Linked DNA regions of Homo sapiens. The protein of the gene in region 3 interacts with the protein of the main gene of each other region in a pairwise test. Each region holds a gene or a part of one and is shown on either strand. Other genes may lie near its edges. The genes, in order: ACVR2A, MORN4, MAGI2 and DSCAML1.

The links.
Region 1: the proteins of MAGI2 (region 3) and ACVR2A interact in a two-hybrid assay, tested with the Homo sapiens proteins (one study listed by BioGRID).
Region 2: the proteins of MAGI2 (region 3) and MORN4 interact in binary tests that used the Homo sapiens proteins (3 or more experiments, as listed by UniProt).
Region 4: the proteins of MAGI2 (region 3) and DSCAML1 interact in a two-hybrid assay, tested with the Homo sapiens proteins (one study listed by BioGRID and IntAct).

What each region holds. Positions count from the first base shown.
Region 1 is NC_000002.12:147,923,668-147,931,931, reverse strand, and holds the end of ACVR2A (activin receptor type-2A isoform 1 precursor), read right to left. Parts: intron 5,902-8,264; coding exon 5,771-5,901; intron 4,853-5,770; coding exon 4,658-4,852; 3' UTR 1,110-4,657; downstream 1-1,109. UniProt on the Homo sapiens protein: On ligand binding, forms a receptor complex consisting of two type II and two type I transmembrane serine/threonine kinases.
Region 2 is NC_000010.11:97,616,501-97,625,470, forward strand, and holds part of MORN4 (MORN repeat-containing protein 4), read right to left. Parts: intron 3,184-8,970; 5' UTR 3,154-3,183; coding exon 3,087-3,153; intron 823-3,086; coding exon 708-822; intron 288-707; coding exon 178-287; intron 1-177. UniProt on the Homo sapiens protein: Plays a role in promoting axonal degeneration following neuronal injury by toxic insult or trauma.
Region 3 is NC_000007.14:79,443,088-79,452,057, forward strand, and holds part of MAGI2 (membrane-associated guanylate kinase, WW and PDZ domain-containing protein 2), read right to left. Parts: intron 1-8,970. UniProt on the Homo sapiens protein: Seems to act as a scaffold molecule at synaptic junctions by assembling neurotransmitter receptors and cell adhesion proteins. Plays a role in nerve growth factor (NGF)-induced recruitment of RAPGEF2 to late endosomes and neurite outgrowth.
Region 4 is NC_000011.10:117,425,871-117,430,785, forward strand, and holds the end of DSCAML1 (cell adhesion molecule DSCAML1 isoform 1 precursor), read right to left. Parts: coding exon 4,852-4,915; intron 2,934-4,851; coding exon 2,458-2,933; 3' UTR 1,902-2,457; downstream 1-1,901. UniProt on the Homo sapiens protein: Cell adhesion molecule that plays a role in neuronal self-avoidance. Promotes repulsion between specific neuronal processes of either the same cell or the same subtype of cells.

The DNA.
Region 1 (8,264 bases), on a different chromosome or scaffold from region 3:
TGAATACGAGTGGTGAGAGAGGGCATCCCTGTCTTGTGCCAGTTTTCAAAGGGAATGCTTCCAGTTTTTGCCCATTCAGTATGATATTGGCTGTGGGTTTGTCATAGATAGCTCTTATTATTTTGAAATACACCCCATCAATCCCTAATTTATTGAGAGTTTTTAGCATGAAGGGTTGTTGAATTTTGTCAAAGGCTTTTTCTGCATCTATTGAGATAATCATGTGTTTTTTGTCTTTGGCTCTGTTTATATGCTGGATTACATTCATTGATTTGCGTATATTGAACCAGCCTTGCATCCCAGGGATGAAGCCCACTTGATCATGGTGGATAAGCTTTTTGATGTGCTGCTGGATTCGTTTTGCCAGTATTTTATCCAGTTAGAATGGCAATCATTAAAAAGTCAGGAAACAACAGGTGCTGGAGAGGATGTGGAGAAATAGGAACACTTTCACACTGTTGGTGGGACTGTAAACTAGTTCAACCATTGTGGAAGTCAGTGTGGCGATTCCTCAGGGATCTAGAACTGGAAACACCATTTGACCCAGCCATCCCATTACTGGGTATATACCCAAAGGACTATAAATCATGCTGCTATAAAGACACATGCACACGTATGTTTATTGTGGCATTATTCACAATAGCAAAGACTTGGAACCAACCCAAATGTCCAACAATGATAGACTGGATTAAGAAAACGTGGCACATATACACCATGGAATACTATGCAGCCATAAAAAATGATGAGTTCATGTCCTTTGTAGGGACATGGATGAAATTGGAAATCATCATTCTCAGTAAACTATCACAAGAACAAAAAACCAAACACCGCATATTCTCACTCATAGGTGGGAATTGAACAATGAGATCACATGGACACAGGAAGGGGAATATCACACTCTGGGGACTGTTGTGGGGTGGGGGGATGGGGGAGGGATAGCATTAGGAGATATACCTAATGCTAGATGACGAGTTAGTGGGTGCAGCGCACCAGCATGGCACATGTATACCTATGTAACTAACCTGCACAATGTGCACATGTACCCTAAAACTTAAAGTATAAAAAAAAAAAAAAACATAGCTAAAGAAAAACTGCATATGCAAATCATACCGTATTCATTTTTTTATTTAACTTGGGGATGGAATGGGGATAGCATACATTTTATTTGTACAATATTTAACAATCACTTATCCAAGGTGGGGTTTTATGGGGATTTTAAGCTTTCTGTTAAATACTTGCAGAAAAAATAGCAAGTACGATTTGACAGTAGTACAATAACCTGTGCCCAAAACACAAGAAATACAGAGTAAAGCGAAAATAACTGCTTACCAATATTCTGAGAGGTAACAAATGGGATATGGGTTGAGACTGCATAAAAAACGTACTGCTGGTTGAATATCTGAGGTAAATGATGTTCAATCAAGATGCTACTTGTATCATTTTGCCCATAAATGGATAAATAATTTTATGCATATCATACCAAATGTTCCTAAAAAGTAATCTTTCAAAAAAGTATAAAAGAGAAACTGGAAAGTATCTGTGATGAAGCTTCTTTCTTTAAAAAAAAAAAAAAAAACAAAAAAACCAGTAATCAGTTTATTCCACTAAACCACCATCTCGCCATGGTTTTTTTTCCCCTACCACCTGCATTTTACTTAAATGTAGCTGTTACTTAGGGGTGAGGAAATGCAACAGAAGAGATTCTTTTTAAATTTCATGATATGATTCTATTTTAAATTCCAAAGGTGTTGGGTTTTTTCCTGATTGTATTTTCAAAACATCACCATGAAAGATAGATAGTGCAAGTTCATGGGACTAACAATCGTGAAGCACAGTCTCTTTTTCTGGAATTCACAAGGTACCTAGAATTCAAACAAGAATCACACATCACATGCTAAAAAAACTTCTAGCATCTAAAATACATACAAGAGCTGTGCAGGGCATAGACTTCAAATAAAGCCGAACACTGGTTAATCCATCAGTCCTATGGCAAGTTGATCATAAAGCATTCCTTACGCGGAGATCTGGGCAAGGTAAAGAGTATAAGTTAGAGCAGCAGCAGTTCTGATGGGTATCAGAAAGGCAAAATACAAGACGAGTCATGAGGAGCACCATACACATGAGGAAAGAGTTATTTGGGGGGTCTCAGTTTGCCCCAAAATGGATCACCATTTTTCTCATTCTTTGATCTTTTTTTTTTCCAGTATCTCTAGCTCAAACTTTCTGTTAACTTGCCCACTCTGCACTGACTGTAAACCAAACACTAAATACCCTGCAAAAGAAAGTTTTAACAAGACTAGGTATAAGGACAGGTAGTCACTGGAACATTCTTATTTTACTGCTTATAAAAAGTTTTTCTATTAATAATAGTTCTCAAAAGAATACAAGTTTTAAAATTGGTTAGCTACAGTTAAATACAATACCCAGGATTTCTAAAAATTTTTTCTAACTTGAAAACATTTTATATTGTGAATAACTGGGTTTAAAAATTTTATCTCTAGTACTCACATAAGCCAAACATTCATCATAATATCCCTTGTTTATTTTTGTTTAACTTTTAAAAAGAAAGTTAAATGTTCACAACAGGTAGAAATTCATCTTCAGGAAATTAATGATTTTCTTGTATGCACATTCTCAATATTTTCCCTTCTTGATTAGTTTTTAAATGGAAGCAAAACCAGATCAAGAAATTGAGAGACCAAGTACTTTGTGAAATAAAGAGGTGAACTCAACATTGAAAAGGGAATTGCTAGGAATACAATGAATGAGACCATGGGGACACACGTGACAGTTCTGAATGGTCTGCAGCACACAGACGCTATTACTCTTCTTTTCCTCCCTGCTTAAAGTCTGTTGACCTATGTATTGTTTATAAATAACATAATTAATTTACTATTCCCAGAGATTACGTACATATATGTAAAATGTAGTGTACTGTGTGGTTAAATAACCATTTGAAGACAACACATTCACAGTGAGCTCCTGACAGTGACATGTAAAAAATTCTTTTATAAAATTAACATGGATTTTAAAATGACCTGACAGAAATACACAGCATAATACTGGCTATTTGTTGATTAATTGATTGGTAATCTGGAAATTCAGAAAATTAATGTTTTACTTTTTGGCCTGTATAAATTTGAGGAAGAATCCAATTGTATTCTAACGTAATATTGTTTTGAAAAGCACTTTAGCACCTGCCTACCATCAATTCCATTTTCTTAGCAAGGATAAGGCATGAACTATCCTAAATTAGTATCAGTGTTAGTTGTAAAAGCAATTTTGGGGAGGAGGCTAGGCTATGCTACCTATATCAACATTGGTTACCTCTAAATGTCATTGCATATTTTAAGTTATACGTTTAATTTGTTATCCCTGATTTGTTTTAAAGCAGTAACATCTGAAATCTGCTTAAAGTTTAATATCTTTATCCTAGGATAATTCTTTACATATCACAGACATCAAATATTACTCTGACAAGATGGCACCAAGCAGAAGTATAGTGATAAAGTTACAAGTCTCATAGCAGACAGTGGGGAATTCTGGGTAACGACACTTCCTGAGGTGATCCTAAAACAGTGATAAAGAATGTCCCACACACTGTTTGGTGAAAAGAAATACACTACAATTTTACATATATAAATAGAAAAAACTCTATTTTAAAAGATAAAATGAAGAGCTTTCCAGTGTCACAGCTCACTTTAAAAAATTTTAAATCATGCTTTAAATTTTCAAATATTCCCCAAACACAGCACACCTAAAAAAAATACTTAGGTAAGTATGCAAATTTTGGGAACTGGATATAAGATGGGGCTTTAAAACATGGGAAGAAGGGGGAAATGACACCATCTTTTCAAAAAACAGCACTTTTTTTCCCTACATTACAAGCCAGCACAAGAAATGCTAAAACACTGCTTTACGAATGGCCACTTATTGTTGGCACTAAGCATAGCTTACCTTTTTTTCCTTAAATAACACAGTGAATTTGTTACAAAACATGGATCGATTTATTATTCAAATTTTGTTAGTGTTTTCAATTTTATAATTTAGCAACCGTGGAACTGAGGTATACCTTGTTGAGGGAGGTTAAAGTAATGCTTGGAAGCCTCTTTACTGTACCCCACTTTGATGACTTTATGTACACAGAACAGCAGCACACTAAACATTCACAAGCTGTGTCATATTGGCATTACAATAGTCATTTATAGAAACAACAGCAAATGCAATAAAAACAAGTTACCCTTTTTAAAATCTGAAATGAAAAGTTTTTGATTTAAAAAAAATAGCAGTAGTTCATTTAAGGAATTAGTGTCTTCTGACAGACATTAAGAAATCTGATGTCAGTTTTCAAACACTCCATTAGCCAGGTCCAAAAGATCCTTGATTTGGAGAGGGCTACATTCTTCATGTACACTTTTTCAAAAGTTTCTTTATAGAGTTTGCAAGGTTTCTCTTAGTCTCATGTCCTTCACATCTGTGCTGTCGGCAATGCAGTAAGTCTCCCAGAGCAACATTTTTCAACAAAGGGTCTTCTTTCTTAACATTTCCAAGAGACATCCTACTCATTTTACACAGAAAATAAACTGTAAGCAGTTTCTTTAGCTTAGCAGCTCCAGTTCAGAGTCCCATTTCTTAGTGTGCACAGATGGCGCAACCATCATAGACTAGATTCTTTGGGAGGAAAGTCAACATTTGTCACCATTGTGACCACTGTTACAATGTCCTCTGTGGTAATAATATTTGTTAGTCTCTGCATCTGGGTAATTCTTTCACCTACACATCCAGCTGATAACCTGGCTTCTGCGTCGTGATCCCAACATTCTTCAATGGTTTCACAGAGCATTGCCATTCCCTAAAAGGAGAAAAACATATACTCAAACGCCACAGCAGTTTTTGTTTTCTATTAGGAAACAATAAAATTTTCATGAAGAAATGGCTATTTTTCTGGGTCAAAGAAGTTTCTGTCAACATTCACTTTTATTGACTACCATGTGCAGAATCATAAAGAAAAGCACAAACAGAACTTTTTTTTTAAGCATGAGACTATCACAAGAGGAATTTTTTTAACTCCAAAAAAAAAATCTCTATCCCTTGTTCATAACCCAGGTCATTTCAATGCTAACCCTTCAAATGGACTCAAAAATCAAGGATAAAGGGGACCTACCAATTTTTATTGTTTTCTTAGTTAATATCAGCATTTCTATCTTACAATTAAACAGAAGATCAGAAAGCCACCCTTGGGATTTCTCTACCTGGTTTTAGCCAGGTTTCTAGTTATATTTAGACTGAAATAACCAGGGCAATACTGTTATGTGCCTGGTCTCTATAGTTTTAAAGCACTATTAAGACTTGAAAGTCTAAGCCGAAATTAAAAGGCTACAACAAACTCCCATGGAGAGGAGAAAACATGGTGCTTCATAAACTTTTTAAAATGTTGTCATATTGGAAGTGGTCATCAGCAAAGTTACCCAACTATCCACAGTTTCCGAGTCTGGCATGCCTTTTCCCTGGGAAACTTTCTAAATAGATGACACAATCTTCTGCACAGGACCATTGAGACAAAAGCCCTCTAAAGCTCTATTACTTTACAATCACCTTCAGGGGTATACAGACATAGCCCTAATTCTGCCTCTAGAACTCTAGAATATCCTGTGTGAAGATCACCTTCCAGAAAATACTTGCAGAAGAAAGAGAAATGTGCAGAGATAAATAATTCCTCTGAAAAGTGTTTTATTGGAATTTCAAATGAAAAGCTAACTGGATAACTTACAGCATGTTTCTGCCAATAATCTCTTAAAACAGGCCTCTTTTTTTTATGCACAACAACTTCCTGCATGTCTTCAAGAGATGGATGCTGGCCAATTTCCTCCTCAAATGGCAACATGTATTCATCTACAGGTCCTGAAAAGTAAGAAAAGTAAAATAAATCATTTTCATTAAAATCCTCCTGACTTTCAAACTGGTACAAACTTTCTAAAATATACTCTGTCACCTATTCCCAACTGTTTACATGCTATGAGGACAGAAGAGAAACAGACTCTCAACTGTACTTATACCACAGTGTGACCAAACTAATGTATGGGAAATGAAAAGGCCTATAATTTGGCATGTAATTCCCTTAAAGATTGCATAAGGGGCTTTCTTATCTAGGTATAAAGGATGCCTATTTCCATCTGCACAGAGGACATAAGGAACAATCAGTATTTGTAAATTAACGTTATATAATATCCCTTTAAGGTACCCATTCCTTACAATTCAGATCAGAATGTTAACAGTGGTGCTTCCAGCTCTGGAGGCTCTAGGTTCAATCTATTATAACCATGTTTATTCTATGGCATATCCAAACCCCCTGCATGCCCCACATGAGGAATTATGCACCTCAGAGTCATACCTCTTCTCTACACTCCCTCACAACAGCTGCCAAAAAGTACATGTTTATTTTTTAGAAAATCACAAACAGGCTCTCCAACTAGGGGTCCCAACAAGTCAGGATGTGCCTTCATAGACAACATTAAACAACATAAATAATTCCTTTTTTCTTAGGCCTACTCAGATAAATAGAAAATTGTATTTAGGAGTTAATAATAACTAACATCCAGTAAGCACCTATCCTGATCAGAAACTTTACATATATTACTTACTTCACAGGGTTAAGATGGCAGTACCTCTATTTACTGATAAGAAGCTCAGAAAAGTTACATAATTTGCACAAAGACATACAGCTGTTAAACGGTAGAGCTGGAATTGAACCCAACTCTCTAAATAACTCTGAAGTCTGGTTTTAATCACTGGATTGCCTTCCTTTGACAGACACAGGTCACCACTGAGCAGTATCAGTGACCAGATAGATGTATGTGTGCATAAACACAAATTTTGTGAAGCTCTTGAAATGCACTAAATACTCCTGGGTAGAATACAATGAATCATAAAGGGGTCATCTAACTTAACCCTCTTCAAATATAAGAATTATCTATGGCTGGACAGTTGGTCTCTGCTTGAGTACTTCCAGTGACAAAGTACCGACATTCTAAGGTGTCTATTCAACACTTATGTGGTGTACAGGCCAGCAACACTGCCGTCAACTGGTAGCTTAGCTTTTAAGAAATGTAGACTCTCAGGCTTCAACCCAGACCTACTGAGTCAGAATCTAAATTTTAACAAGATTCCTAAGAATCTGGTATGACACATTAAAGTTTGAGAATTACTTCATTTAACAAACAAGTAACCATCAACACACGTGAAAGCACCTACTTTAGCAATCAATGCTCACACTATCCTCTCTACCCCAATTTCTGACTTAACAATTGGGTTCTGACTTAAGAGTCAGAAATGCCTGACTCTGAAATTATTTCATGGCATTTAAGAAAAGTCAGTATCTAGCCTTTTCTTTTTCCAAAAGAACTTCTCTGAAACCTCTCTTCCCCATAAACAAAGCAATTTCTCCCCTAAACTCCTAAAACACATGCTTGTATTTCTTAAGTATTGCACTAACCCAGAAACATTTATTGAATACCTATGTACTGGGGAATGGGCCAGACAACTCACACTTAACTTACTCTAGAGTTAATTGTCCAGGATATATTTTATTGCCCTAACTAAACTGTATATTACTTGAGAATAAGGTCTTGTGTCTCCTAAATTACTTAATCCAATGATTTGTTATGGAGAGTTCATATTAATAAAGTTCTTATAAAATATATTTTCCTATAACATCTGCCATCTAACCTACTTCTGCTTCCATAAATGCACATCATAAATGTCATTCCTCTTAGAGTCAAAACACTCTGCGTTCTTAACGCTTCTTCCTAAAGACTTCTGAAATTATTCCAAAATTGCTTCAACTTTTCTTAGGTTTGGCATTGACTCCCAAGCCAATCCCTCAATCCTGGAAGAATGCCCATTTCTGAACACTCTATTAAATTCCCTTTAATAGTACCCTATATTGAATTTCATATTCCAGTGGCAGTCTGTCCTACAACGAGAGCCTATTACAGTACTCAGAAAATAAAATATTGTTAGTAACATAGGTTACATTGGTTATAACTTAAAATATTCACAATTTCTTCTATGGTCTTTGACAATCACAGGAAGTTTTTAGGCAATTATAAATTAGAACTTAAGAAACAGATCAAGCTCATTTACATCTGTTTAGGAGTTTAGCAGTCGGCAAGTTTGCCTTATATTATTCAAAACAAAAAATGCTGCAACATACTTGAAGACAGAGTAAAGACCTTATGAAGGAGTACTAAAGACAGTGCTTGAAA
Region 2 (8,970 bases), on a different chromosome or scaffold from region 3:
AAAGAAGAGAAAAACTCCCAGCTCTACTCAGGAGTACTCTATTGATGAGTTCAATGGATAGGTGTCAGGGACGGCCACTATGGATTGCTGGACACCCGCAGGATTAAAACTAAACAGGTATATTTCCACCCATATTATGCCCACCTAAGTCAGCCATCCTGCTGGGCTGCAACTTACCAAAACCATCTACTCTGCCATTTTTAAATTCCCCCTCAAAGGTCATGTTGTCATATCGAATGAAGACTCCGACGCCATTAAACTTGCCCTGGGCAAACTCCCCCTCATACCTGCAGAAACACCAAGAAGTTAGCCTTCAGTGGAAAGTTAGCTGTCCAGATGAACGGAGTCGAGCAGCTGCTGATCTCTGTTATTTAATGATGCTAAGGAGCAAGCCGATTCTACCAGTCACATAGCTCCACCTACCCCACCTATTCCCAAGGAGCAGAGAGTATATATGACATGAAGCCCTGATCTCAAGGAAAGAAGATAGGATGTGAATGGGAGTGGGGTGGAAAGTCACTCACTTGGTTGACATTTCAAATTTTAGGTCCACTTAAAAAATAGCTAATAAAAGAACTACTTATTACTCATCTGTGTTCTGCAGGGAGTGAGACAAGGTCAGGATTGACCAGATATTTACCAGAGTCCCATTTTTCTGTCAGACCCTCCCTTATTTAAGGCTAAGAAAGGAATGACCTCATACCCACCTTGAACCATCTGAGAAGGTCAATACCCCAAAGCCATTAAAGAGCCCATTCTCAAAATGACCCAGGTAGGTGCCACCATCTGCAAACATCAGTTGACCAAAACCATGCCTGCGGCCTGAACAAAGAGAAGGATAGGTGTCAGGTTGGAAGGAGGCAGCTTCAGGGTCCCTTCTTACTCTTGTAGCATCCCTTACCTGCCATCACCCTACCCACAAAGAAAACAAGAGAAGCAGTGACATTAGCAGGGCAGAGGATTATTAGCCAGAGTCAGGCACTGGGAAAACCTGGCTCCTGGGGCCTTCCCATCTTATCACTACAGATTAAAGCAGGTCTACCCAAGTATGAATAAGAGAGCACTTAAAAATAACAACAGCTGACCAGGCGCGGTAGCTTACACCTGTAATCCCAGCATTTTGGGAGGCTGAGGGTGGATCACGAGGTCAAGAGATCGAGACCAGCCTGGCCAACATGGTGAAACCCCATCTCTACTAAAAATACAAAAATTAGCTGGGTGTAGTGGCGCCTGCCTGTGGTCCCAGCTACTCGGGAGGCTGAGGCAGGAGAATCACTTGAACCCGGGAGGCAGAGGTTTCAGTGAGCTGAGATCGCGCCACTGCACTCCAGCCTGTCGACAGAGTGAGACTCCGTCTCAAAAAACAAACAAACAAACAAAAAAACAACTGGCTGGGCGCAGTGACTCACGCCTGTAATCCCAGCACTTTGGGAGGCCGAGGAGGCGGGCAGATCACCTGAGGTCAAGAGTTCAAGATCAGCCTGGCTAACATGGTGAAACCCCGTTTCTACTAAAACTACAAAAAATTAGCCGGGCATGGTGGTGGCGCGCTCCTGTAACCCAGCTACTCAGGAGGCTGAGGCAGGAGAATCGCTTGAACCTGGGAGGTGGAGGTTGCAGTGGGCCGAGATCATGCCATTGCACTCCAGCTCGGGCAACAAGAGCAAAACTCCATCTCAAAATAAATAAATAAATAAATAAATAACAATTGCTAACATGTGTATTTATAGTGCCTTTACTATGTGCCAGCCTCTCTTCTTTTTTTTTTTTTTTTTTTTTTTTGAGACAGAGTCTCACTCTGTCGCCCAGGCTGGAGCACAGTGGTGCGATCTTGGCTCACTGTAACCTCCGCCTCCTGGTTTTAAATGATTCTCCTCCCTCAGCCTCCCCAGTAGCTGGGATTACAAAGTGTTGGGATTACAGGCATGAGCCACTGTGCCTGCCCTAAATTCTTGAGCCTTGAGAGAAATTGTACAGGTGTGATGTGACCTTGGCTCCTCCAATCCCAGGCATTTCTTCCTGGCTTTCAAATACCTGGTGTCCCCTTTAATGCGGACTGTTAGAGGAGAGACTTCCTGAGGCTCTGCTGGGTGGGCTGTATCCACCACAAGAACTCCCTTGAATTCTGTTTGAAAGGCATGATTACTCCTGCAACATCTTGCTCTGTTTTCTGGTCAGTTCAGAGAGTAAGCACAGCCCTGTTGTTATAATGAAGCTGAAACCAGTGCTGCTAATCAGGCTGTTAGATTTGCCCAGTAGCTTTAAGGTGCTAAATGGATACTGGTTGTTTTTTTTTTTTTTTTTCCTCAGAGAGGCAATGTAGTTAGATTTTGAGGACACCGAGTCAGGCTGCCTGCTGTGTTTGCCTTCTTGTTCTACCACTTAGAGTTCTGTGATCTTGAGTAAGTTACTTAGCTTCTCCTTGCCTCAATTTCCCCATCTGTTAAATGGGAATAATAATAGTATGTGCCTACCTCATAAGGTTGTCATGAGGATTAAATAAGATGATAAATACAAAATGCTTAGAAGAGAGGCTGGCATGGGCCGGGCATGGTGGCTGATGCCTGTAATCCCAGCACTTGGGGAGGCCGAGGTGGGCAGATCACCTGAGGTCAGGAGTTCGAGACCAGCCTGGCCAACATGGTGAAACCCCGTCTCTACTAAAAATACAAAAATTAGCCAGATGTGGTGGCAGGCGCCTGTAATCCCAGCTACTTGGGAGGCTGAGGCACGAGAATCGCTTGAACCCAGGGGGCAGAGGTTGCAGTGAGCTGAGATTGCACCACTGCACTCCAGCCTAGGCAACATAGTGAGCGAGACCTCATCTCAAAAAACAAAACAAAACAAAACAAAAACAGAAGCAAAAAAAAGAAAGATATAACTCATTCCTGGAGGTTGAATTAACAATAGCATTTTCAAATTCCTTTATTTAATCCTAAAATGGAATAAAGGAATGGCAGGCACTATATGGAATTAAATCCTGGAGTTGAAAATGAAGATCCATAAAGTTGGCTATATATCCTGATGTATTTGTCCTCCAGCAAATGAAGTGTTCATCATGGATACTCCCCAGGGGTCCTTCTCACCCTCCTTCCACTCGCCACGATATTCCTCCCCACTGGAGTAGGTGAAGGAACCTTTTGTCAGGGTCATGGTGACAGATTACAGGATAAAAGGATGAAACTGTAGGAAATAAGCAAAGGAGAACCAGTGTCATGGAATGGCGGGAGGAAAGGACTGCAAGGCAATTTTATAGATACATTCTAAAGGCCACCAGCCTGGTAAGTGTACACTGCCTTAGGTGCATTTAACCAAAATACCCCTATCTCCAACCACCACCAGCACCATCATCTCCACCTCTGCCCAAGTGCTCTTATCCTCCTGCTTATCTTAAAAGTTTTCAGCCAGTTCCTATTTTCTATGACCTGGGATGGAAATCTACAAATATTAATCTACAAATATTTATTTGATACCTACTATGTGCTCAGTCGATGTATAAAATACAGTATCTTCCCTTGACGAGTTTATAATCTAGTTAATAAGACTAACAATTTAAACACTGAATTATGCCAGAGATAATGTGATTAAGTGCCAACTTGGATGGCAGAGATTAACAAAGACATGAGATGGCCAGAATTTAAAACAAGCAGACAAGCAGTGGAGAAGGCAAAGAGCAATTCCAGAATCAGAAAACATAGGGAACAGGCCAGGGGCAGTGGCTCACGCCTGTAATCCCAACACTTTGGGAGGCCGAGGTGGGTGGGATGACCTGAGGTCAGTTGTTTGAGACCAGCCTGGCCAACATGGTGAGACCCCGTCTCTACTAAAAATACAAAAATTAGCTGGGCGTGGTGGCAGGAGCCTGTAATCCTAGCTACTTGGGAGGCTGAGGCGGGAGAATCACTTAAACCCGGGAGGCGGAGGTTGTAGTGAGCTGAGATCACACCACTGTTACTCCAGCCTGGGTGACGGAGCAAGACTCTGTCTCAAAAAAAAAAAAAAAAAAAGAAAAAAAAAAGAAAATATGGGGAACCAACACTCAAAGGGCAAGGAACACTCTAAGGGCAATGTGAACACGAGATGTTCCATGGCAAAATAAGAAGCCTGGTCTCATTACAGTTGAGGGTTTATTTGGGGAGTATTAGGAAATAAGCCTGTGTAGGTACATGTAGCCACAATCTTAAATTTGAAGAGAGGCCTGGTGCAGTGACTCACACCTGTAATCCCAGCACTTTGGGAGGCCGAGGTGGGAGGATCACTTGAGCCCAGGAGTTCAAGACCAGCCTGGGCAACATAGCAAGACCTCATGTCAAAAATGTAAAATTAAAAAACAAAAAATAGGCCGGGCGTGGTAGCTCATGCCTGTAATCCCAGAACTTTGTGAGGCCGAGGTGGGCGGATCACGAGGTCAGGAGTTCGAGACCAGCTTGGCCAACATGGTAAAACCCCATCTCTACTAAAAATACAAAAATTAGCCGGGTGTGGTGGCGGGCACCTGTAATCCCAGCTACTCAGGAGGCTGAGGCAGGAGAATTGCTTGAACCCAGGAGGCAGAGGTTGCAGTGAGCTGAGATCACACCACTGCACTCCAGCCTGGGTGACAGAGCAAGACTCTGTCTCGAGAAATAAATAAATAAATAAATAAATAAATAAATCTGAAAAGAATCTCATGGATTTAGCCCAACCTCTCATTTTATAGGAGAAATAGAAGCCCAGAGAGGTAATAAAGTTTGTTGACAGCCTCCCCTGACTATGCTAGTCCTTTTTTCCTGTACAGCACAGCCTCTGCTTTTAGCTCAGGCTAACTTAAAGAGACCTTTGAAAGCTGGGCATAAGAGTTTACAGCATATGAGGGAGGAAAAGAGGCGACCTCTGCGGGTTTGTGAACCAGGATGTAATATGAAGGCAGTGTGTAAGGAAAATGAATGTGGTAGCACGAAGTGGGATGAATTGGAGCAGCAAGTCCATAGTCAGAAAAGCTTGCAAGGAAGGGAAATATGATAATGAAGCAAATTGTAAAAATGGGCAGAGTTATTCTCCCTCCGTTCATGACCCTACAATGTGACAAGGCAGATCCTCCCATTAAGAGGCAGAGTTGGCCGGGTGCGGTGGCTCACGCCTGTAATCCCAGCACTCTGGGAGGCGGAGTGGGTGGATCACCTGAACCAGAATGGCCAGCATGGAGAAATCCTGTCTCTACTAAAGATACAAAACATTAGCAGGGCGTGGTGGCGGGTGCCTGTAATCCCAGCTACTCGGGAGACTGATGCAGAAGAACTGCTTGAACTCGGGAGGCAGAGGTTGCAGTAAGCCAAGATCGCACCACTGCATTCCAGCCTGGGCGACAGAGTGAGGCTCTGTCTAAAAAAAAAAAGAGGCAGAGTTTATTTATTCCTCCACCTGCTGGACCTGGGTTGGCTGTGTGACTTGTTCTAGATAATGGAATGTTCGCAAAGGTGATCTAGCAGAGGTCTGCAAAGCACCTGTGCACTGGGCTTGCCCTCTTGCTACACTTGGACCTGTTCTGCCCCCATGTAAATGAGTCCAATCTAGTCTACTGGATGGTGAGACCCTGTCCCAGCTGGCCACAGATGAACAAATTGCTCAGGCAAGACTAGAAGAACTGCCCTTCTGAGCCCGGCCCCAAACTAGCGACCACAGACTCACAGGATAAATAAATGGTTATTGTTTCAAGCCACTGTGTTTTCTGGTGGTGTGTTATTACCCAGAAAAAGCTAACTGATACGTTCAGGCATGAGTCTGGGAGATCACAGTATAATGGGAGCAGAAGGAACAACTGGGGGGATACATCATAGGAAAACAATCAGTAACATTTGGGGACTGGCTAGATATGGCTTCACATTAGTGGTGAAAGGATGTATTGAAGGATATTCTATAAGAAGGGAACTGCACGGTGGCTCAAACCTACAATCCCAGCACTTTGGGAGGCTGAGGCTTGCGGACCACTTGAGCTCAGGAGTTTGAGACCAGCCTGGGCAATATGGTGAAACCCCATCTGTACCAAAATTACAAAAAATCCAAAAATTAGCCGGGTGTGGTGGTGCGTTCCTGTAGTCCCAGCTACTTGGGAGGCTGAGGTGGAAGGATCGCTTGAACCCAGGAGGCAGAAGTGCAGTGAGCCAAGATCACGCCACGACACTCCAGCCTGGGCGACAGAGGGAGACCCTGTCTCAAAAAAAAAAAAAAAAACGGAAGAAGAAGAAGAGGGAATTAAGATACCCCCCAAAATCATTAAATATAAACAGAGGCAAATAGTACGTCATTTGATAGACTAAAAAATACAAGCCCTATTTCTTTTTTAATTCCCTAGGTCTCTTCATTCATCCCTTCATCTTTCATTTATTTATTTATTTATTTATTTATTTATTTATTTATTTTTTAGAGACAGGGTCTTGCTCTGTCACCCAGGCTAGAGCACGGTGGCACGATCATAGCTCACTGTAACCTCAAACTCCTGGATTCAAGGCATCCCGTCACCTCAGTCTCCTGAGTAGCTGGGACTACAGGCGCACACTACCACATCTAGCTACCTCCTCATCTTTTCCAGATCTAAGCAATACAATGTTTTCTCCAGTAATTTTGACAATGCAGATTCCTAGGCCCAAACTCAGACTTACTGAATCAGATTCTGTAGTCAGAGCCTGGGAACCTGCAGTTTTAATAAGCACATCATTAGATCCTTACTTCAAAGCTTGTGGCCTACTGCTACAATAAATGGAAATACTGTGTGTGAAAAGTTCTCTGAACTATAAATCACTATTGAAAAGTCCTCTATCAACCAAGCATGGTGGCTCATGCCTGTAATTCCAGCACTTTGGGAGGCTGAGCAGGGACAATTGCTTGAGCCCAGGAGTCTGAGGCTGCAGTAAGTCATGACAGTGCCACTACAGCCTGGGTGACAGAGCGAGACCCTGTCCCCCTCCAAAAAAAAAGTCCCCTCTGATTAATAAGTAACCTAGAGTCTGACCCTCAGGCATCTGACTGAGTTCCAACAGGACAAGGACACATTCTCCTCAGAGTACTGGGGCCAGACCTGGTGGAGAAACAGGAAAGAATTCTTTTTTCTTTTAGAGACAGGGTCTCATTATGTTACCCAGGCTGGACTTGAACTCCTAGGTTCAAGAGATCCTCCAATCCCCTCTTAGACTTCTGAGTAGCTGGAACTACAGGTGCATGCCACTGCTCCCAGCTCAAAACAAGACGGGATTCTTTTTTTTTTTTTTTCTTTTTTTGAGACAGAGTCTCACTCTGTTGCCCAGGCTGGAGTGCAGTGGCATGATCTCGGCTGACTGCAAGCTCTGCCTCCCGGGTTCATGCCATTCTCCTGCCTCAGCCTCCCGAGTAGCTGGGACTACAGGTGCCCACCACGACGCCCCACTAACTTTTTGTATTTTTTAGTAGAGATGGAGTTTCACCGTGTTAGCCAGGATGGTCTCAATCTCCTGACCTCGTGATCCGCCCGCCTTGGCCTCCCAAAGTGCTGGGATTACAGGCATGAGCCACCGTGCCTGGCCGCAAGATGGGATTCTTAAATCTCGGGGGCCTGGCGCCAACAGCTAGCTTCCTTTTCCTTCAAGTCCCAGGGAAGCCAAAACCTCATCCAGTCAAGATGGAGTTCCAAAGAGTGGGTTCCATAGTTTCATAGCACAAAAGGGGTCTGGTATATTTTATGCAAAAGTGATGCTTTAAATGTTCAACTAAAACAACCCATATGTTAAATTTGCTTTCTCCACATTGTCATGGTGGACAGTGCTAGATTATTTATATTTCAATTCAGGTGGCACAACCCTCTCTAATAATCAATTGCACTAACCCCAGAGAAGCTGTCTGAAATACCTTTATAACAGAAGCTAACATTTACTGACCTCTTACTGTGTTCCATCAGTGTTGTTTATTTGTTTTGTTTTAAGAGATGGGGTCTCACTCAGTTACCCAGCCTGGAATGCAGTAGTGTGATTGTGATTAGAGCTCACTGCAGTCTCAAACTTCTGGGCTAAAGTGATCCTCCCGCTTCATCCTCTCCAGTAGCTGGGACTAGAGGTGTGTGCCAACACACCCAGCTACTTTTCAAATTTTTTGTTGAGATGGGTATCGCTATGGTGCCTAGACTGGTCCCGAACTCCTGGCCTCAAGTGATTCTTCCTCATCAGCTTCCCAAGTAGCTGGGATTACTGGTGTGAGCATCAGTGTTTTTTGTTTTGTTTTGTTTTTGAGACGGAGTTTCACTGTTATTCTTCCCCAGGCTGGAGTGCAATGGCGCGATCTTTGCTCACTCCAACCTCCGCCTCAGCCTCCCAAGTAGCTGGGATTACAGGCATGCGCCACCACGCCTGGCTAATTTTGTATTTTCAGTAGAGATGGGGTTTCACCATGTTGGTCAGGTGACCTCAGGTGATCCTGACCTCAGGTGATCCACCTGCCGCGGCCTCCCAAAGTGCTAAGAATACAGGCGTGAGTCACCGCACACGGCATGAGCATCAGTGTTTTTAAAATATATTATCTAATTTCATCTCACAACAACTTTTTGGGGTGGGTATTATTATTATTTCCACTTTAGGGATGAGGAAACTAAGGTGCAGAGAGGATAAGTAAATTAACTAAGGTCATACATGTGGAAACTAACACGTGAAAGTTAGAATCAGAGCTCTGACAGCTGGCCTTGCTGGCACAAGTTCTTACAGTAACTTGCTAACTTATACCATACTATCCTATCTGGCCTCCCAGGATAATATGGTGGTGTTGTAGACTCTGAGCACAGGAGGACTTGAGTTCAAATATGAGTTCACTGTATAATTATGGGCAAGGTATTTAAGTATCTCTAAATCTCAGTCTCCTCATCTGTAAAGTGGAGATAAGATATGTATTTCACATAGTTGGCAGGTGGATTAAATTAAATATCTGAGAGTCAGTGGGTGACAGAAAAGAAAAATAAAAGAAAGAAAATGACAC
Region 3 (8,970 bases):
ATGGTAAAACCCCATCTCTAGTAAAAATACAAAAATTAGCCGGGTGTGATGGTGGGTGCCTGTAGACCCAGCTACTTGGGATGCTGAGGCAGAAGAATCACTTGAACCCAGGAGTCGGAGGTCTCTGTGAGCAGAGATGATGCCACTATACTCCAGCCTGAACCTTAGTGTTTGAAGTGTGTGTGTGTGTGTGTGTGCGTGTGTGTGTGTGTGTGTGTGTGTGTGTGTGTATTCCATGTACCTAAAGATGCAGAACAAATTTGTTGTTCACTGGGGTGACTCCCACACTAGACTGAAGAAAAGCAAAGCGAGACTCCTTCTTAAAAAAACAAAACAAAACAAAAGAAAAACTTCACAAAAAGCAACATTGGACAATTCATATCTCTGAAACTTATTGGTGTTTACAAAATCCAGCTAATCAGATTTGACAAGTTTAGGGTATGTCACTAGATTAATCTGTGGGTTTCTATAGCACTTATTATCCTCCACATAGCAACACAAAATACTCATATAAGCAAAAATACTCACTTGTAAAATGCAAAATGTTAAAAATGTATGCAATTGTTTTTGTATTATTTTTACTCAGACATTCCCTGTGATCTATTAAGTGACAATGTAAAGTATAAACAGTTTTTGTGCTACACTTGATCCATGGCAATATAAATAATTCAATTTATGCTGGAATTGGGAAATTTACTTTTTAACAAACATCTTCAAACACAATGTAATATAAAAATAGATTTTTAAATATACATTTTGATTTTTAATTAAATAGTTTTGTTTCTTTCTGCTTCATTTCACAGAGTCACTTAATAAAATCCATGGTACTTACAGAAAAATTCCTGATGTCATATGCATGTGTTTCACTATAAGGCAGTTATGAGGTTGATAAAATTTCTTCTACAAATTTTTTCATTAGACATACGCAAATCAATAAACGTAATCCAGCATATAAACAGAACCAACAATAAAAACCATATGATTTTCTCAATAGATGCAGAAAAGGCCTTTGACAAAATTCAACAACGCTTCATGCTAAAAACTCTCAATAAATTAGGTATTGATGGGACGTATCTCAAAATAATAAGAGCTATCTATGACAAACCCACAGTCAATATCATACTGAATGGGCAAAAACTGGAAGCATTCCCTTTGAAAACTGGCTCAAGACAGGGATGCCCTCTCTCACCACTCCTATTCAACATAGTGTTGGAAGTTCTGGCCAGGGCAATCAGGCAGGAGAAGGAAATAAAGAGTATTCAATTAGGAAAAGAGGAAGTCAAATTGTCCCTGTTTGCAGATGACATGATTGTATATCAGAAAACCCCATCATCTCAGCCCAAAATCTCCTTAAGCTGATAAGCAACTTCAGCAAAGTCTCAGCATACAAAATCAATGTGCAAAAATCACAAGCATTCTTATACACCAATAACAGACAAACACAGAGTCAAATCATGAGTGAACTCCCATTCACAATTGCTTCAAAGAGAATAAAATACCTAGGAATCCACCTTACAAGGGACGTGAAGGACCTCTTTAAGGAGAACTACAAACCACTGCTCAATGAAATTAAAGAGGATACAAACAAATGGAAGAACATTCCATGCTCATGGGTAGGAAGAATCAATATTGTGAAAATGGCCATACTGCCCAAGGTAATTTATAGATTCAATGCTATCCCCACCAAGCTACCAATGACTTTCTTCACAGAATTGGAAAAAAACTACTTTAAAGTTCATATGGAACCAAAAAAGAGCCTGCATTGCCAAGTCAATCCTAAGCCAAAAGAACAAAGCTGGAGGCATCACGCTATCTGACTTCAAACTATATTACAAGGCTACAGTAACCAAAACAGCATGGTACTGGTACCAAAACAGAGATATAGACCAATGGAACAGAACAGAGCCCTCAGAAATAATGCCGCATATCTACAACTCTCTGATCTTTGACAAACCTGAGAAAAACAAGCAATGGGGAAAGGATTCCCTATTTAATAAATGGTGCTGGGAAAACTGGCTAGCCATATGTAGAAAGCTGAAACTGGATCTCTTCCTTATACCTTATATAAAAATTAATTCAAGATGGATTAAAGACTTAAATGTTAGACCTAAAACCATAAAAACCCTAGAAGAAAACCTAGGCAATACCATTCAGGACATAGGCAGGGGCAAGGACTTCATGTCTAAAACACCAAAAGCAATGGCAACAAAATCCAAAATTGACAAATGGGATCTAATTAAACTAAAGAGCTTCTGCACAGCAAAAGAAACTACCATCAGAGTGAATAGGCAACCTACAGAATGGGAGAAAATTTTTGCAGTCTATCCATCTGACAAAGGGCTAATATCCAGAATCTACAGTGAACTCAAACAAATTTACAAGAAAAAAACAAACAACCCCATTAAAAAGTGGGCAAAGGATATGAACAGACACTTCTCAAAAGATGACATTTATGAAACCAAAAGACACATGAAAAAATGCTCATCATCACTGGCCATCAGAGAAGTGCAAATCAAAACCACAATGAGATACCATCTCACACCAGTTAGAATGGCAACCATTAAAAAGTCAGGAAACAACAGGCGCTGGAGAGGATGTGGAGAAACAGGAACACTTTTACACTGTTGGTGGGACTGTAAACTAGTTCAACCATTGTGGAAGTCAGTGTGGCAATTCCTCAGGGATCTAGAACTAGAAATACCATTTGGCCCAGCCATCCAATTACTGGGTATATACCCAAAGGATTATAAGTCATGCTTCTATAAAGACACATGCCCACATATGTTTATTGTGGCACTATTCACAATAGCAAGGACTTGGAACCAAGCCAAATGTCCAACAATGATAGACTGGATTAAGAAAATGTGGCACATATACACCATGGAATACTATGCAGCCACAAAAAAGGATGAGTTCATGTCCTTTGTAGGGACATGGGTGAAGCTGGAAACCGTCATTCTCAGCAAATTATCACAAGGACAAAATACCAAACACCGCATGTTCTCACTCATAGGTGGGACCTGAACAATGAGAACACATGGACACAGGAAGGGGAACATCACACACCTGGGCCTGTTGTGCAGTGGGAGGAGGGGGGAGGGATAGCATTAGCAGATATACCTAATGTTAAATGACAAGTTAATGGGTGTAGCACACCAGCATAGCACATGTATACATATGTAACTAACCTGCACGTTGAGCACGTGTACCCCGAAATTTAAAGTACAATTAAAAAAAGAAGAAAATTCAACATAGACAAAATCTCTCTTTGCACTATAAAGGTTTATTTTTTTCTTCTGTAACATATCTGTGTTTGGGTATATCCAATGATATATCCAAAGTATAGCAAGTATTTAGGCTCAAACTGCCATGGTTTTGACAGTGATTTTTTTTTTAAAGTAAGCCAAAATAAATAAAAATGGCATAAAACCTCATAAGGATTCATGTAACGATTACATGGAGAAATTATTTCCCCAGGTAGAGCAAGCCATCTAATTATTTCAAATATTGAAACAAATCTAGCCATTCATATAAATCACCCACTCATTAGCCTAATGGATCTTTGAAAGTATATCAATGGGGGTTGGGCGCAGTGGCTCACACCTGTAATCCCAGCCCTTTGGGAGACCGAAGCAGGTGGATCACGAGGTCAGGAGATCAAGACCATCCTGGCTAACACGGTGAAACCCCATATCTACTAAAAATACAAAAACATTAACCGGGCGTGGATGGCGGGCACCTGTAGTCCCAGCTACTCAGGAGGCTGAGGCAGGAGAATGGCGTGAACCCGGGAGGCGGAGATTGCAGTGAGCTGAGATCACGCCACTGCACTCCAGCCTGGACGACAGAGCGAGACTCCGTCTCAAAAAAAAATAATAAATAAGTGAAAAAATAAAAGTACATCAATGGGATGCAATTGAGTTAATATTCAATAACTTATCAAAGAAGGAAACTTTTATTGTTTCTTCCAGACCACTCAAAACAGTCAACAATATATATTAAACTTAACACAAATTTTAACTTTTTTAAAAATATCTCAATATGAAGTCCTTTTAGAGTTGACAAAGATGTCAGTAAGACGTAATAATAAAAGCAATTTTTATTAATTATCTATGATGATATGGACATTGTACTATGTATGTCCCTATGCAAGTCTTTAACAATGTAAATTCAGCAATTATTATATTACTAAGTTTTCTATATAAGATAATTTACTTTTATTAAAGGAAATATAACAAATACTTACTAGAGACAGAAGAGAGCTGAGAATAGAATGGAGTAAGTAATAATAAAGTCACTAAACTAAGGCAGTTGTATGTTTGTTGTCATAATATATAGCCAGATTATAGCTAGGAGAGATTTTTAGAAATTAATACTGAACCCTGGAGCTTCAAGGTAGATGTTTCCATTGAACTGTAAAATAGGATTAATTCAACGAAAATGCTAAAATTATGGGGAAGCTAGCAGTGGAAGTATTGTTGGTTGCTTCACCTTGTAACAGTATTAATACACAGACTTACTTATATTGCATTTCTTTCATACAAAGTATGAAAATACTATAAAATAGTATTTTAATAGTACTATAGTACGTTAATAGTATTTAAATAGTATTTAAATTTAATGGTATTTTAACAGTACCATAAAATACTATAAAATAGTATAGTATAAAATACTATAAAATGCAATACAAATAGCCTTTTAACTTATTTACATTGCAATACTCACAAATGCAAAGTATTATTTTTGCTGAATTTGATGCATTTCCTCTTTATTATACATTGTTGACTGTGAACACTTAAGAGTTAACTTTTATTATTGTTATTCTTTATGAGGTGCTTAATTTCTAGCTGAGAAGTAAAAGTTCAACAGCATGATACTTACTCTTAACTACAATGATGTATTAATATAAGAAGTATAAACTCCTAAACTTAATAAATTCTAATAGGATTTCTATGTTGTCAAGTTTAGAGTAAATAATTCAATATATTCAGCAATTCTTTGGGAGTAAAGATATGCGGTATGAAGAAAACAAATTACTATGTAAAAATAAACTATGTCTAAAGTATAAAATAAATATAAAATAGCAGATGTTTACACATAAAGGGAGGATCAGTGGAAGTTATTTTTAAAAAGTGAAAATATTTTCCATTGTATTTATTGATATTATTCTTCAAATAAATTCTTTTCAAATAAAATATTTATTTCATTCTGCAAAAAAACCTTAAAATACAACTTGCAAAATACTCTATATTAATGTCAATCATTTCATATTTTTCAGTTAATTTGAATTGAGTAAAATATCTTGAAAATTAAAAACACCTCATAATGTCACTAGCTCAAAATGACCAATATGTTTGCAATAGCATTTACTAAAATCTACATAATGCTTATCACCTGCCAGACACTACACACTTTAAATACATAACTTATCTAATATTCTTAAGGTGCCATTACTACCCCAGGTTAGTTATCTTGTACATATAGCTAGCACTAACTGACATACTCAGGAATTAAAACTAGGTGGTCTACTTAGGAGACTGTACCTTTAACCATTGCTCTACCCCACCTTCTGAGGAAAATGATTCTGCCAGGGTCTGTATGTATTTGAAAGTCATTAATTAAACTATAATCAATCAGAGATGTCAAATGTGAATATGCTTTTCTCATTATGAAAGTGAATTTGTGAGTTACAAGCAATGAAAAGGAAAGTGAGCATAATAAACATGCCAAAAGATTAAACAGTGTAAATGTTAAGAATAGGGACAGTACAGATAAAAAGCAAATAATCATATTTAACATTCGAGGTCATACCATTTAAATTATCTACATGTACCAGAAAACTACAGTGGTATCACTTATAAATTATGCCCCAAGAGAACCGTCTCATTAACCTTGTTCAAAACATTAATGGTACTTTATTTCTAAAATAATAAACTGATCAAAATGTTTAAACAATGTTTTGTTTATTAAACAACACTATTCATATACCTCACATTTCTACAGAAAAAAAGTCAATCTTTATTTTCAGAAAATTTGACATAATTTGTTTTTACCTTTTCAGATACAAAGGAGTATAGAGATCTGACTCTATTATTCTAAGCCTGAAGTCAGTCAAGAAGAAAGTATGACTCTTAATAAATGTGGATCTACTTTCCTTTGAAGGTATCTTTGAAAGGAGCAGTAGGAGGGAGAGCAATGTAGATCTTCTCTAAAACTGAATTTCAAAGGATTTATTTGGCCCATCTTCCACATGGGAAGAATTAGAATTTTTTTTTTTTTTTGCCTTTTATTTCCCATTGTGAGACCCTAAATGGGAAAATAAGTCCAGGTTATGTAGGTCTCTATGTGGTATTAGATGCAATAGCAGCCATAGTGCAAGGAATGTAGGCCACAAAGGCCTGTGTAACTGGCTGCTGTGAACTTTAGTGGCAAACCTTAAAAAAGGGAAAAGAAAAAGGAAAGAAGACCTTTAGCACTTCCATATAGATCTCAACATCACTCAAAAAACTTTCTTCAACTGGGTCTGATGCATTAACGAGATCATAGAATTACTGCTAATTTAGAATTACATACTTTGGTGAGGAAAGTTTATTATTACAAATAAAATGCCATAGTTTATAAAAAAGAATTGGATGTGACAATAAGCCATATTTTAATATGTGGTTTATTATTGTGTGGATTAAAAGCAGAAAGCTTAAATTAAAAAGATAATTCCTTGAATTTCATTAAACAGTTTTAAAAATTGTTTTGCAGGTATTTAAACAGTGTAGAAACACTGTGAGATATATACATATATATATATATATATATAATGTCTTAAAATCCCAACATTTTAAAAGGAGCTCACCTCCTTTTAAAATTATGACAGATGAAAATTATGATAACTGTAATGTAAAATTAGGCAAACAAGTAAATAAAATTAAGTAAATAATGCAATTTTACCTGGTGCACTTATTAACAATATTCTTATTATTCAAATCTTACCTTTTCTTTATAAAATCTTCCTTAAACTATGATAATTCTTGTAGTTTCTGTATAATACCCAATGTCTGAATGAATATTCAAAAATCAGTCTCATTAATGTTTTAAAAACGCAACTGCTAAACAAACCATGTTTAAGTTTTTCAGCTATGCTAGCTTTTGCATCTCTTGAAACATAACTACTGGGCCAAGAGTTTCTAAATGATTTTCCAGTAAATGACATCTGTATTGAAACCTAAGACACACAGGCACTATAGTAAAGGTTCTGAAAAATTTCATTTTTTATAATCATAAATAAAATTAATCTATGATTTGACGAGGAAAAGAATTATTAGAATAGCAACATGAATCATATTTAAAAGAATATACAAGAGAATTAATTATTCCACAAAAGGTAAAAGAAATATTTTGTTTTGTTTTGTTTTTGGTCAGCAGTGGTTCAGGAGATGAACCAACTGTGGGCTCTCTGGCTATCATTATACAAATTTATCATCAATGAACCAGTGAAGCACGAAACTGAGGGTTAATATAGAATGAAAAGAGACTTTCCCCTCAATATATCACTTTAGAAGCATATATTCTGAGTTCTAAAAGCAATAATCTTCCACATAAAATTCAATACAAGAGTGATCTCCAACCACATTAGATCAAATTATGGCAAGATTCAAATAATATCTAATCCAGGTCCTCATCTTATATAGGAATCCCTGGCATATGGTCATTTCAGCCTCTTCATGGATACCCACAATGATGGGAACTTCAGCCAACAGGGTGCTCACAAATTTTTGGAAAACTCTGTTAGAAAGCTCATGATTTAATGAAAGTAAAGCTGCTTCATCCTTTCAAATTTCTCATAGATTTATCACCATTTTGTCCTGTGGGCTATCACAGGATAGTCAGAATTCCTTTTCTTACCTGATAGCTTTTCGCTATTTAATGATAGCTTTCATTCTTTCACTTCTCCACGTTAAGTCTTTCCACGGCATTTCATAGAATACATCTATAATACACAATAATCTTCCTTTATTTCTCTTTTGAACTTACTCTTTGCTAGCGTGACAGTTTGCCAACGTCCGCCTCAACAAGGAGTGCTCAGAATTGAACACAACATTTAAGATGTGATGATCATTGCAAACTATAATAGGGCATCCGTTTGTGGGACTCTATTAAGTCCAATTTAACAACGCTTAACTTTTGCAGCCACGTTCCATGACAAATATCAAGCATTTGGCCAACAAAACCATGGTCATTAGTTGTGTAGTAGACTTTTCGTACCCAAAGATCTTTCCATTTATGTCTATTCCTATAAGGTGGTATTTTGACATCGAACATGTTAACATGAATCTCTGTATTTGAACCTTAGGTATCTTATCTTCAAAAATATCAAGTTACTCTATTTTCCTTCCTACCAAACTCATATCCCTTCAGTGTTAAATAGTATGGAGCTATGTTGACTTATAATAACCTATCTCAATTTATTACCTCTTAATACTCAAGAATACCCAAGGAAAACATTTTCTTGTATGGCAATTTACATTTAAGAAACCTTGCCCAGTACTTCTTTTTATCTTGTTTATTTTAAAACAAGTTTTTTAGAGAATAATTTAACAGTGCGGTACATCTCCGTAAAAGCATTTCTTAGTAGTTGATCATGATTAAGCGGCAAAATGCAGGTAATGACATGCTCAATTCCACCTTTGAGTCAGGACAAACAGTGTACATCGACGACAACAACAAACCCTTATGCTAATATGCCTGTGACGCAAATATCCATACATACCGCACACGAATTGTGCAGTGAGCTAAAAAAGAAAACAGAAAAGAAAAAAGCTACTACTTTATTCTACTTAAAGTTGTCCTCTATTCAAACTTTTATCTCACTCTTCTCTCCTTCTGCACCATAATTTTCTTTCGAGCAAAGACAGGGAGTTCTGGATGATTCCAATCTCCCCAAATCCACATCACAGCCTCCAATTGAGGTTCATTTAA
Region 4 (4,915 bases), on a different chromosome or scaffold from region 3:
CACCTGCCTCAACTGTTTTTCTGCCCATGCGTCCAGCTTGCTCCCTGGACCTGGCGGACTCTTCCCCTGGCAACATCCTGGGGGAAGAACTGAAACTCTAATCTTTGAACAGTGGAACAGCAGGTAGTATGGCTCAGTAGTTAAGGAATTGGACGCTCATGAGTTTAAATCTCATTCCCATCTCTTCTAGCTCCTCTAACCTTCTCACCTGTCACGTGGTAATCGTGATACCTTTCTCCCAAGTCTGCAATGAGGTTACAAGCAGCACCTGGCACGTAGTATCGGGATCCGTCATGTATTTTCATGACAGCGTTCCCCTTCGGAGCCCTTAGGCTGCTTCTATCTTCTGCGCCTCTAGCCTCTGAGGAGTTTTTCATTCCCTCTTGCTGGTTGGAGGTGGCTCTGATTCGTGTTTGTTTGCCCAATATCTGGTGTGCAGGGGAGGTGGGGTTGGGGGTCTTCTATGCGGACAGCTCAGGTTTGATCGTTGTGCCTGCAGTTCTGGAGGCGACCTGCAGATGGCGTGCGCGTCCTTGGGAGGCGTTCCGTCCTCCCAGAGATGGAACGAAGCTGGGCTGTCACCAGGTGTCTGGAATGCAGAGCTTTGGTTTTCAACTGATGCCGTTAGCTGCTTCTCTTGGCTGGGTCCTGGGTGTGGGGGCTGAGATGAGCATTTCTTCATGAGCCTAGGAATACCGAGGCGTACGGAATCTCTGCCCCTCCCCTCTCACCGTGCCGACCCGGGAATCTAGTTATTCATGCGAGGGACTCCTCTGCATCCCACACACTCTAGGTGCTCAGAGAGAATTTGTGGGATGAGTTGCTATTCGGAAGATGCTTCTATGAAAGGTCATGCATCCCAGGTGCGGCCTCACCGGGGCCCAGGCTGATAGGTATCAGCTGCCTGCATGCACAAACTCCTCCCTCCTTCTCCAGCCCTTCCCAGTTCCTCCTCTCAGCTCCTAGGGAGCGGTGGGTCCCAGACTCACCTTCCTTCCAGGTTCCTGATCCACAGCTCAGCCTCAATTGCAGTGCTCAAGAGCCCCCTGTGCACTTCTTAGGTGCACTTCCTTTTCACCCAGGGGCCAGTCACCTGCTTCTGCCTCTCCAAACCTTCAAGTCCCTGGAGGTCCATCTCACCTGTCACCTCCTGTGATGCCCTCTGGACCCTCTCATCAGAAACCAGGCCTCTGGACACCCACGGCACCTTGCCTGCTCCTCCGTGTGGACGCCTTTTCTTCCACTTGGCTGACTCCTTGGAAGCCAGGTGAGGTACCTGATGTGCTGACCTGGTTCTCTTTGGCTGAGCTCCATTCCCTCTCCTTCATGAGCTTCTCTCACTCCTCTCACCTCCGACGACTTCTCTTCTTCTCCCTCTGGCCTCATCTGGTCCTAAGAGTCAGCCCAGAACTTTAGGCCTTGGCCTGGTGCCCCAGCTATAGATAATCTCTTCTTCCCCGCTCCCGATAGGCACCTCTTTCACAACTGTGGGCTATTGGTCTTGTATAGTCCTGGCCCCCTGGCTACCCTGCACTCTCTTGGAGGAAAGAAGCCAGTAGGCAACCCCTCCCCTATCCCAGGCTCCCCAGCGCTTGGTGAGCCAAGGTTGCCTCATTCCATCTGCTACAAGCTTCCCTCCGTTTACAGGTAAGGACACTGTGGGTCAGAGGGGTTTAGGAGTTTGCACGAAGCCACCGACCTAGTTCCCCTTGCGGGCCCAGCACAGCTCTGAGAACAGAAGAGGAGGCACCTTGGCTAATTGCAAGCCTTTAAAAGTCTTAGAGCACTGAGCCAAAGCCCAGGCTTCTCACAAAGTCTCTTTATGAGAGACAGACGGCCTGGGGTCGGGCTCTCTCCTCCCTCCCCGCTGGCCTTCGCCAGATGGGAAAAAAGCCACCACATAGAAACATAACCTTTATTGCACACGGCGCTGGGTCTTTTTTCATAGAAAAAGGTATTAACACATAAGCATCTGCAAATTGAAGCAACTCCTGGTTTTCTTGGAACAGTAAAATCGCATGCAGTGTCTCTGAGTTGGGATTTTGGTCTTTGTCAAAACCACCTAGACTGGGGGGAAGGTGAGGAGGAGGGAAAAAAATTGCTGAGTCTTTGTGCCTCTGTCTCAAAATAGGGTGAGAGAAATATATAGATATATAGCTCGTGGACGCGTTCCTGTCTGTCTATATATGTATATATATCTCCACACATATTTTGTGGGGTGGGGGATTTGACTTGTACTGTCAAATTCTTTGTGCCCTGGCTTCATGGAGAAGAAGAAAATAGTTTCATTTGTACAAAAGAGTTCTATGTACAGGCGTTCATGATTGGGGGTTTTTGTTTTGTCGTTGGTTGGTTTTTGTCTGTCAGTTGAATATAAATAATGCAGAAAAACAGCCGAGCTGGCGTGTGGGGCTGCGGCGCGGCGCGGTCCAGGCGTGGCTGCTCTTCCTGCGGGCCCTACACCAGGGTGTAGGATTTGGAGTAGGCCCCGGCCCCCTGCTTCTGAGACCTCCCTACCCCCGATGTGCTCATCTCGAGAAGCGAGTCCCTGGAGCCCCCCATTTTGGTGTGTGGGCCCCCGGCTCGTGGAGGCTCGGTGCTGGGGGCCGGAGGGGCAGCGCTGGGGGCGGTGGGTGGCTCAGCAGGGGTGGGGCCGGGGGCTGGGGGGGCTGTGCCGGCTGGGGGGGCTGGCATGGCCAGAGTCCTCTGAGGTAAGGTGGCTGTGGAGGCGGCAGCGGGGGCCCCTGGGTGGGGAAGGCCCAAGGACTTGCTGGCAGGGTCCAGGGTCAGGTGGCGAGCCTGGGTGTGGTAGGTTCGAGCCAGGTTCCGGATGGAGGCCTCACGGGGTGGGACCACGGGGCAGGGCTCACGTCCATCTGCCTTTCGAAAGAAGGCCTCTGACTTGGCATACAGGGGCAGGTTGCAGTAGTCACCTGGAATCACAGAGGCAGAGGATGTTACAGAGAGTCATAGCCCTCTGGAAGCAGCTCGTTCAGCCCCCACCCCATCCCCTGCCCCCAGTCTTCTCTCTGATTTGGCATAGGGGCCCCTCCACTGGGGGGCAATAAAGAGTAGCGGAAAGGTCGGGTACTTGGCCCTTCTGAGCCTTCGTTTCCTTATCTGTGAAGTGGGGATGATCTTACTTCCCCACAGGATTATTGTGAGGAGCGAATGAGGTGAGGGAGGTAAAGTGCTTTGCTACAGTGGCTGGTGCAGATAACAGCTGCCCAGTACATGGATGCTTGTTGTTCAATGGTCACTAGAGGCTGGTCAGCTTCCGGTAGTGGAGAGCTCACTACTGCTAAGGACGAGGATGTCCTAATGGCTCTGGCTGGTGGAAAGCTTTTCTTTACCCTGAGGAGGAAAGGAATATCATTCCCTGTCGCCTCCCCACCATGGAGCCTGGTTCTGTTCTCTGAGGTCTCACAGAGTAAGGCGTTCCCCTCTTTCCCATGGCAGCCTTCCAGATGTTTGAAGTCAGCTACATGTCCCCTCTCCTCCCCCTCGGTCCCCTCTTCTCCAGGTGGAAAGTTCCTAATTTCTTTTTTTTTGAGACGGAGTCTCGCTCTGTCATCCAGGCTGGAGTGCAGTGGCATGATCTCGGCTCACTGCAACCTCCGCTTCCCGAGTAGCTGGGATTACAGGCACGTGCCACCATGCCCAGCTAATTTCTGTATTTTTTTAGTAGAGATGGGGTTTTGCCATGTTGGCCAGGCTGCTCTGGAACTCCTGATCTCAGGTGATCCGCCTGCCTTGGCCTCCCAAAGTGCTGGGATTACAGGCATGAGCCGCCGCACCCAACCTAGTTCCTTATTTCTTAAACTGCCTCCATGTGACTTGCTTCTAAGACCTCCACCGCCTGACCCCCCGTGCTCCATGGGCACCCTGCCTGCAAATGGGCCTCTTCCCCCGGGGAGCTGGGCCAGGCATTTTCCTTAGATTTTCTTATTGAATCCTCACGACAGCCCCTAGGATTGGTTAATACCTGTCTGCACTTTACAAGTGAGGAAACTGAGGTTCAGAGAGATTAAATCATTTGCCTAAATTTGCACAGCTAAAAGGGGTGGGGGTGTCATTCAGGGTCACAGTCTCCACAGTCTTTCCATTGTTCCAGGCTCTTCTTTCCATGACCCAGAAAGCCCCGCCCCCTGCCTCAATTAGCATGGCCAGTGCTAAGCAGACCAGACTGCATTGTTTGATAGTCTGGGCTTTGCACGCTGTGACCCCAGCATCTGCTGATAGACTCCCCCTGCTGATCCTAGCCCTGCCCTGCCAGCCTCTAAGGGCATATGCTCCGGCCAGGCCCGTGGGGTCAGATGGTTCCCAGCCAGGCCAGGTCACTGCCTACTGAGAGGTATGACCATGGTGGGTGGAGCTGCCAGGATTGTTTGTTTGGGTCTGGATTAAATTCAAACAGCATTGAGACCAGAGGCCCTTGGGCAGCTGACCCTGAAGGGATCTGTTTCCATCCTGGCACAGCTTCAGATTAAGGGGATGCTCACTACCGAATGAATGAGGCCTTACAACACGCTGGGGATGTATATCATTTCTAATGCCCATTATGACAATGCAAAGTAGATACTATCGTTGGCATTTTACAAATGAGAAACTTAAGGCCACAGAGGTTAAATGACTTGCCCAAGGCCACAGACATAGGAAGAGGTTAAGCCAGGATGTGGGCCCTGATCTGCCTGCTCCTAAGTCCTTGCTGTTGGTACCACCCTGCACTGCCAAGGAGCCAAGCTGGGCTGGCATGATCCTGGTGCTGGCAGAACTAGATCTAGCCAGGGCTCATGGGGCTGGGGCCAGGGGGCGGGGGGGCACTGCCTGGGAGGTGGTCTGAGCACTCACTCTTGTTGGCCCGGTGAGGGATGGGCACAGCCACGTTTTTGCCCCGGTCCGCATCCTGGGGCTT